3 separate regions of the Homo sapiens genome follow, and all the other regions are linked to region 1. The links come from fine-mapping of genetic effects on gene expression. A gene starts in region 1. Each other region holds a variant in brackets. All regions are shown on one strand. Distances are from middle to middle.

Evidence for each region. PIP is the estimated chance that this variant, and not a neighbour inherited with it, causes the effect.
Region 2: its variant is fine-mapped to the expression of HISLA in whole blood (TOPMed, PIP 0.98).
Region 3: its variant is fine-mapped to the expression of HISLA in blood mononuclear cells (TOPMed, PIP 0.93).

The regions. Positions count from the first base shown.
Region 1 is chr14:88,022,852-88,025,592 of GRCh38, reverse strand. HISLA (HIF1A stabilizing long noncoding RNA) reads right to left here and starts at 1,043. Exons shown (of 4, transcript NR_046094.1): 1 at 924-1,043; 2 at 112-186. It overlaps LINC01147 (long intergenic non-protein coding RNA 1147), which reads left to right. Exons shown (of 3, transcript NR_110121.1): 2 at 1,817-1,918.
Region 2 is chr14:87,958,208-87,960,976 of GRCh38, reverse strand. All of the region lies in intron 10 of GALC (galactosylceramidase), which reads left to right. Among named protein-coding and RNA genes, the nearest start is that of GALC, 34 kb to the left of the region's middle. The variant A/G (reference allele first, on the strand shown) is at 1,167.
Region 3 is chr14:88,091,451-88,094,219 of GRCh38, reverse strand. No RefSeq gene overlaps it. Among named protein-coding and RNA genes, the nearest start is that of LINC01147, 67 kb to the right of the region's middle. The variant A/G (reference allele first, on the strand shown) is at 1,627.

The DNA.
Region 1 (2,741 bases):
AGATCCATGGCTAATGCACTGCTTTTAAAGAACTTTCATAACTCACTGGACACATAGGGATGTTATGTGCTTTTGCCTAGTCATGAACAGAAAATAAACACAGTTACTTACTTGTCAGGCAGAAAACTTGATTAATTTTTTTAAGCAGTAAGCAGAATCATAGGAAATCATTTCCTTCATGCAAGCCTGCAATAAACGGGAGGTGCATTTGCCACGAATTCATTTTGGTGTTCACATGGTAAAAAAATACTGCCACATGTGGAATGAGCCAAGTGGGCTTTAGAACTGAAGGGGACCAGCCCCTCCACACCTGTGGGTGTTTTTCGTCAGGTGGGACAAGAGACTGAGAAAAGAAATAAGACACAGAGATAAAGTATGGAGAAAGAACAGTGGGCCCAGGGGACCGGCACTCAGCATACGGAGGACGGGCGCCAGCCCTGGTCTCTTGAGTTTCCTCAGTATTAATTGATCACTATCTCTACCATCTCGGAGAGGGGGATGTGGCAGGACAATAGGGTAACAGTGGGGAGAGGGTCAGCAGGAAAACATGTGAGCAAAGGTCTCTGTGTCATAAATAAGTTTAAGGAAAGGTGCTGTGCCTTGATGTGCATGTACACAAACATCTCGGTGCATTAAAGAGCAGTATTGCCGCCAGCATATCTCACCTCCAGCCATAAGGCGGTTTCCTCCTATCTCAGTAAATAGAACGTATAATCGGGTTTGACATTGAGACATTTCATTCCCAGGGATAAGCAGGAGACAGATGCCTTCCTCTTATCTCAACTGCAAAGAGGCCTTCCTCTTTCACTAATCCTCCTCAGCACAGACCCTTTACGGGTGTCTGGCTGGGGGACGGTCAGGTCTTTCCCTTCCCACAAGGCCATATCTCAGGCTATCACATGGGGAGAAACCTTGGACAATACCTGGCTTTCCTGGGCAGAGGTCCCTGCAGCCTTCCGCAGTGTATCGTGTCCCTGGGTACTCAAGATTAGAGAATGGCGATGACTTTTACCAAGCATACTGCCTTCAAGCACTTGTTTAACAAAGCACATTCTGCACAGCCCTAAATCCATTAAACCTTGAGTCAACACAGCACATGTCTCTGCAAACACAGGGTTGGGGCTAGGGTTACAGATTAACAGCATCTCAAGGCAGAAGAATTTCTCTTAGTACAGAACAAAATGGAGTCTCTTATGTCTACTTCTTTCTACATAGACACAGTAACAGTCTGATCTCTCTTTCTTTTCCCCACGTAGAACTCTGAAATAAACATTGCAAAAAATCATACCCATAAAAATATTAATCTGTATTTCTTATGCTCATATTTTAAGGTTGAAAAGATCAATATAACATTAGTACTTTATCACTCTCAAATACTTTTATATCCAATATTTCATTTGCACTGAATAACAGATACCATTAGGTGGGCAGGGGAAATATCCTCCTATTAAAGACAAGGACACAGTCTCTGAGAGGTTATCTCATTTGTTAAAGGTCACGTAGCCTGTAAATGAAAGAACAAAAGTTCAAACAAACCTCATGCCTCCAAATCAAGAGGAAGCCTCAAGGGACCACACTGATACTGCTGTTAGATATGTTCACCGTCTCATGTATTTTGATGTTTACACAGGCCATTTTTAACATACATGTTTAGCAGTCAATGCCACTGGAAATCAGACCAGGGCATGTGTTTAGACATCTTATGGGTATTTCCCTGAATGAGCCCATGAATAGAGTGTAAAAATAGATAAGAAACTGACTTCCTGTTTGTTTCTCTGCTCCCACTTTTTGTCCTTCTTCCGTTGTGCCCTGGGAGGCTGATCTTAGGACCTACAACAAAGAGATTTCTCACTGGCTTCCTGGTGGTTCATTCAATAGGGAATTCCTGCAGCAAGTTGGAGGGAGGGAGGAGAAGCAGGTATGGATTTTTGTTTCTTTCCCTAGTTCTCATTTTAATGCCTGGCCATAGGCTGGCTATGCCTGGGGGTCTGCAGACAGACTTCTGTGCCTCCAGCTTTGGTAACCACCCCCTCTGCTTGCCCTCTCAGAGCCAGGGGCCTCAGGGTGCCCAGATGTTCTTATCCCCAGTTCACGCATCATCCTTGTGGCTTCCTTGTACCCTGCCCATCCTTTGTAAATATCTCTTTACTAAACTTTCCTCAGAATACCTGAATTTGAGTGATCTCTCCATTGCCTGCCAGGATCCTTCCTGACATTACCTTCCAGAATGAATATTTCTGAAGGAGTCTATTCTCTATGCAAAGAAACTCAATTTCTCACCATGTATAAAAGGAAATAAACATCGTTTTCAATGGAAAATAATGTAGGGGACATGTCTGGTGTCACAGGTGTGTTTGGACCACACAGCCCAGAAAGATGTAGTCATAGAAACAGACTCTTTTCTCTCCTTTGTTTGGTAACAGCATCCTGATTTTCCCTTGAGAAACGATCCTCTCTTCTCCTTACAGTCTCTGTTATTATGGTGGGACCGACCCTACTCTCCAGGGCAGGCATGGGGCCCTGCCCTGGCTTATGAGAAAACTATACACCCCTAACCACAGTGATCAGTTTAAAGATGGGAAGGAACAAGGGCAGGGGAACCTTTACATTTTCCAGAGATACCAAGAAAGAGGCTCTCTTCCCGCTGGATTTTCTAATCTGTGGAACCTGGGCCTGGAGATGCTGTTAACCATCTTTGACATCATATAAAAGCCAAAATAAAATAGCAAAAGGTGGAACTG
Region 2 (2,769 bases), 65 kb after region 1:
GATGAAGCCCACTTTGTTTTCTCTTTTGTTTCTTGTGCTTTTGGTGTCATATCTAAGAAGCTATTGCCTAATTCAAGGTTCTGAAGATTTATATTTATGTATTCCTTTAAGAGTTTTAGAGTTTTAAATCTTAAATTTAGGTTTTTGGTCCATTTTCTTTCTTAACTGGGGTTATATGTGTGTCCAACTTGATTCTCTTGCATTTTAATATCCAGTTGTCCCTGCACTATTTTTTGAAAAGACTATTCCTTTTTCATTGAATTGTCTTGGCATCCTTGTTGAAAATCAATTGGCAATAAATTTGAGGGTTTATTTCTAGAACCTCAATTTTTTTCTGTTGACTTATATATCTGTCCTGACGTGAGCACCACACTGTCTTAGGTACTGTAGCTGTCTGATAAATTTTGAAGTGAGGAAATGTGAGTATTTCAACTTTGTCATATTTTTATTTTTTATTGACACAGGGTACAATTTGATGTTTTGATACATACATGTGGTATAATGGTCAAATCAGGGTATGCCCATCACCTCATGAATTTATCATTCCTTTGTGATGAAAGCATTCAAAAGCCTCTCTTCTAGCTGTTTTGTAATACACAAAACCTTACTGTTAACCGTCTTCACCCTAGTGTGCAAGAAAACACCAGAACTTACACCTCCTGTCCAATAGTTACTTTGTACCTGTTGACCGACCTCTTCCTGTCCTTCCCTTCCCAGCCCCACCCTAGTGTCTGGTAACCACTGTTCTACTCTCTGCATCTGTGATATCAACTTACACCTCCTGTCCAATAGTTACTTTGTACCCGTTGACCGACCTCTTCCTGTCCTTCCCTTCCCAGCCCCACCCCAGTGTCTGGTAACCACTGTTCTACTTTCTGCATCTGTGATATCAACTCTTCTTTTTTTTTAATTCTACATGTAAGTGTGATCATGAGGTATTTGTCTTATTGTGTCTGGCTTATTTCACTTAACATCATATCCTCCATATTCCTCCATTTGTTGCAAATATCAGGATTTCATTCTATGACTAATAGTACTCCATTGTGTATATATATATCACATTTTCTTTATTCATGCATTCATTGTTGAACACTCAGGTTGATTCCATATCTTGGCTATTGTAAATAGTGTTTTAATAAACATGGGAGTGCAGATACCTCTTTAAC[A/G]TATATATTTTATTTTGGGGGGATATATACACAGTAGTGGGATTACTGGATCATATGGTAGTTCTACTTTTAATTTTTTTTTTTTTTTTTGAGGCAGAATCTTACTCTGCACTTCCAGGCTGGAGTACAGTGGTGCAATCTTGGCTCACTGCAACCTCTGCCTCCTGGGTTCAAGTGATTCTTCTGCCTCAGCCTCCCAAGTGGCTGGGATTACAGGCGTCTGCCACCACACCTGGCTCATTTTTGTATTTTTAGTAGAGACGGGGTTTCACCGTGTTGGCCAGGCTGGTCTCAAACTCCTGACCTCAAGTGATCTGCCCGCCTCAGCCTCCCAAAATGCTGGGATTATGGGCGTGAGCCACCACGTGCCCCGCCTATTTTTAATTTTTTAGGAATCTCCACACTGTTTTTTATAGTGGCTGTACCAATTTACAACCCTAACAACATGAAGTAAGTATTTCTTTTTTTCCACATCCTCACCAACACTTGTTTTCTTTTGTTTTTTTGGTAATAGCCATTCTAAGTAGAGGGAAGTGATATCCCATTGTGGTTTTGATTTGCATTTCCCTGATGATTAGTGATGTTGAGTATTTTTTCATGTACCCATTGGCCATTTGTATGTCTTCTTCTGAGAAATGTCTATTACAGTCTTTTGCCCAATTTTAAACTGGGCTATTTTGTTGTCGTTGTTTAAGTTCTTTACATAGTCTAGATATTAACCCCTTGTCTCATGTATAATTTGCAAATATTTCCTCCCATTTTGTAGGCTGTTTTACTTTGTTTCTTTTGCTGTGCAAAAGCTTTTCAGTCTGATGTCATCCCCTTTGTCTATTTTTGCGTTGTCTGTGCTTTTGAGGTCTTATTTAAAAAATTCTTGCCCAGCTCATTGTCATAAAGCACTTTCCCTTTGTTTTTTTTCTAGTTTTATAGTTTCAGGTTTTATATTTAAGTATGTAATCAATTTTGAGTTGACTGTGTATATTGTGAGAGACAGGAGTCCAGTTTCGTTCTTCTGCATGGGGCTATCCATTTTTCCCAGTGCTGTTTATGGAAGAGACTGTCCTTTTTCCTAGCGTGTTCTTGGCACCTTTGTTGAAAATTAGTTGGTCATAGGGCATGAATTTATTTCTGGACTTTCTATTCTGTTCCATTGGTCTGTGTGCCTGCTTTTAGACAAAACCATGCTGTTTTATTAATCGTTACTATAGCCTTTTAGTATATGTTGAAGTCAGGTAGTGTGATGCCTTCAGCTTTGTTCTTTTTGCTCAGGGTTGCATTGACTGTTTGTGGTCTTTTGTGTTCCTATATAAATTTTATGGTTGTGTTTTCTATTTATGTGAAGAATGTCCTTGGCATTTTGATACAGATTGCATTAAATCTGTAGATTGCTTTGGGTAATATGGCTGTGTTAACAATATTAATTATTCACTATATTTTTGTGAGTTTTTTTTAGTGATTATTCTGGGGCTTACCATATACATCTTAACTTATTGGACTCACTTCAGATTTAAACTAACCGAATTACAGTAGATTATGCTGAATTCCCTTGTTGCTCTGTTCCCTTTCTCCTTTTGTTCTATTATTAGCACACATGTCACAACAC
Region 3 (2,769 bases), 69 kb before region 1:
CCATTTTAAGTCTTTCCCTCCTTTAATACACTGTGAGGTGAACCCTAATAGCATCATCCTCTTTGCTCTATGAGACCCAGAGCTAGAGAGGGATCAACCTGCCTGTTCAGCCCTCCATAGTTCTTGGGGTCAAGGAGGATGAGAAAGTCCTTCCCAGAATATTCACATGAACTAGGACAGCCTTTCTAGGACCCAGGATGTGCCATAGCCTTGTTGTCACCTGTCATAGTGTTTGGCCTTCTTGGGTGATCACTAAATTCCTTGCTGGTTTTAACAAGTTATGTTTCATTTTTATTTTTTCCAATGTTAGTTTTCAAGATGTTCCTCTGTTACATAGATTTCCTAGGCAGCTTATTCAAAGTTGAGATAAGCAAACCTAAACTGACATACTTTGATTTTCAGTGATATGGGAAATGTCCATGATAAAACAACTGAGTTAAAAATGGCAGATAAAAATATGTGCAGTATGCTCCCAGTTCTCTATGTATCTTTCTGCTACTTGTAGATGTGTGATTTTGGGCAAGTTACTTATCTGATGAGCCTCAGTTTCCTTAAATGCGCATAATAATATATACCTTGCAGGGTTAATGTGAAGATCAACAGTGACGTATTTGACACTCCTTTACAAATGTTGGAGAGTTATGCCTTGTCTTAGTTTGCTAGGCTGCCATGACAAAGTAGCACAGACTGGATGGTTTAAACATTAGAAATATATTTTCTCAATGTTCTGGAAGTTAGAAGTCTGAGATCAAGGTGTCAGTTGTTTCTTCTGAGACCTCACTCCCACCCTTCTTTCTTTCTAAGTTTAGCTCTTACGTAGGAATCTTTAGGAAGTGTTTTTTCCTTTCATCACAATCACAAGAAATTAACCTTTCCCTTCAGGGTCCTAGGGCTCTTCGATGAACCTGCGTCAGAGCCATGTTAAATCTTACTTACCTTTGCATCCACTTAGGCACAGGACAGGATTTGACACATAGTAGGTGTTTAAGAAATAACCCATTGAATTGCATTGAATGCCTGTTAATTAAATGAATGCTTTCCTGTTGTCTGACTTAGCTGGGGAATACTTTCATTTGATCAGCAGCAGACCACCCTGCAGGAAGCAGAGATCAAAGGAGTTAACATGATCCCAGACCATTTGTTAAAAAACTGAGAGTGAAGTAGTTTGATTTCCTTCATATATATTTTATGTTTAAGAAATCTATGGTAGGATATGTTTGAAGCGGCCTAACATTTGTGACTGTTAACATGAATGTTAAATGACTTTCCTGATATATAGACATACTTTGAATTTTTAGTCAATATGAGACAAACTATTCTACTCAGGAAGTTCAGAATATCATGTAGGGTGATTATTTAAACTGCTTATGTAGGAGGATAAATGGGCAAAAAGAAAGTCTGCTATGAAAATGTGCAGAGATGATTTAAACAGGACTGTGTTTTGAAGTGTATGGAATGTACATACACATACTCTTTGCCCTGAATGTACATGTACATATGTTTATTTGGAATGACTCTCCTAAGGATATTTGGGATTACAGTACAACTACATGAGTGGCTATGTGAAATTCTTCTCACTGTAGGGGCCTTCTCTTTCTTATATGAACCTCAGCTCCAAACAGGTGG[A/G]CTTTTATAAAATCTTAAAGCTAAAAGTGTGCCTCACACACTTCCCTTGTCCAGGCTGGCTGCTTGTGCAAACCTGAGACAACACTAAGTGAGATGTTAGATGATCTGTAAACAGCTCAAGCAATGAAGGGCCTGACAAATCTGTGCATAATCTACAGAGTTCTGTATTTTTACTACTTTTACAGCTGAGGTTCCCATCTTTATTGTTTTTGTAATAAAAACCTACGCTATTGCTAATGAACATTTTTTTTTTTGTAAAAAAATCCTTTGTTCCTTACACATAGTAAGAGGTCAGTAAAATTCTTTTGAATTGATGAACAAATGAACTGAAAACAGGTTTTTCCCAGCAAACTTCCAACTCCTCTAAAATGTTTGGAAGTAATCTTACTTCTCCCACATCCTCCTTTTTTCATTGATGACTTCACCATCCATTTACCCAGTCTTGGAGTGAAAGCATATGGGGCGGGAGGGTGCAATTAACACCTTCTTCTCTCTTGTTTCCTACATCCTGTCAATAAGTCCAACAACTATTCTCAGATCTATTATCTCCATTAATTCATTCACCCTGTTCCTGCCTCAGACCATCGCCTTTCACCTAGGCAGCCTTAGGGACTTGTTCCAATATAGGTTTTACTGCCATGACAGAGATTAAACATAACAGTATTTTAAAACACAAGATAGAAGTGATTCTCTCTGTCACATAATGATCCAGGACTGTTTGGGGTCTCTTTCTTTGCAGGGGTTCAGATTCCTCTTGTGAAACCCAGAGGTTTCACATGTAATTTAAACTCACATCCCATTTGTCAGGATTAGTAACATGGCTCATCTCAGTGCAAGGGGATAGCTGGGAAATGTAATTGTGTTAGTCTGTTTTCATGCTGCTGATAAAGACATACCTGAGACTGGGAAATTTACAAAAGAAAGAGGTTTAATGGACTCACAGTTCCACGTGGCTGGGGAGGCCTCATAATCATGGTAGAAGGCAAGGAGGACCAAGTCACGTCTTACATGGATGGCAAAAGGCAGAGAGAGAGCTTGTGCAGGGAAATTCCCCCTTATAAAACCATCAGGTTTCATGAGACTTATTCACTCTCATGAGAACAGCATGAGAAAGACCTGCCCCCATGGTTCAATTATCTCCCA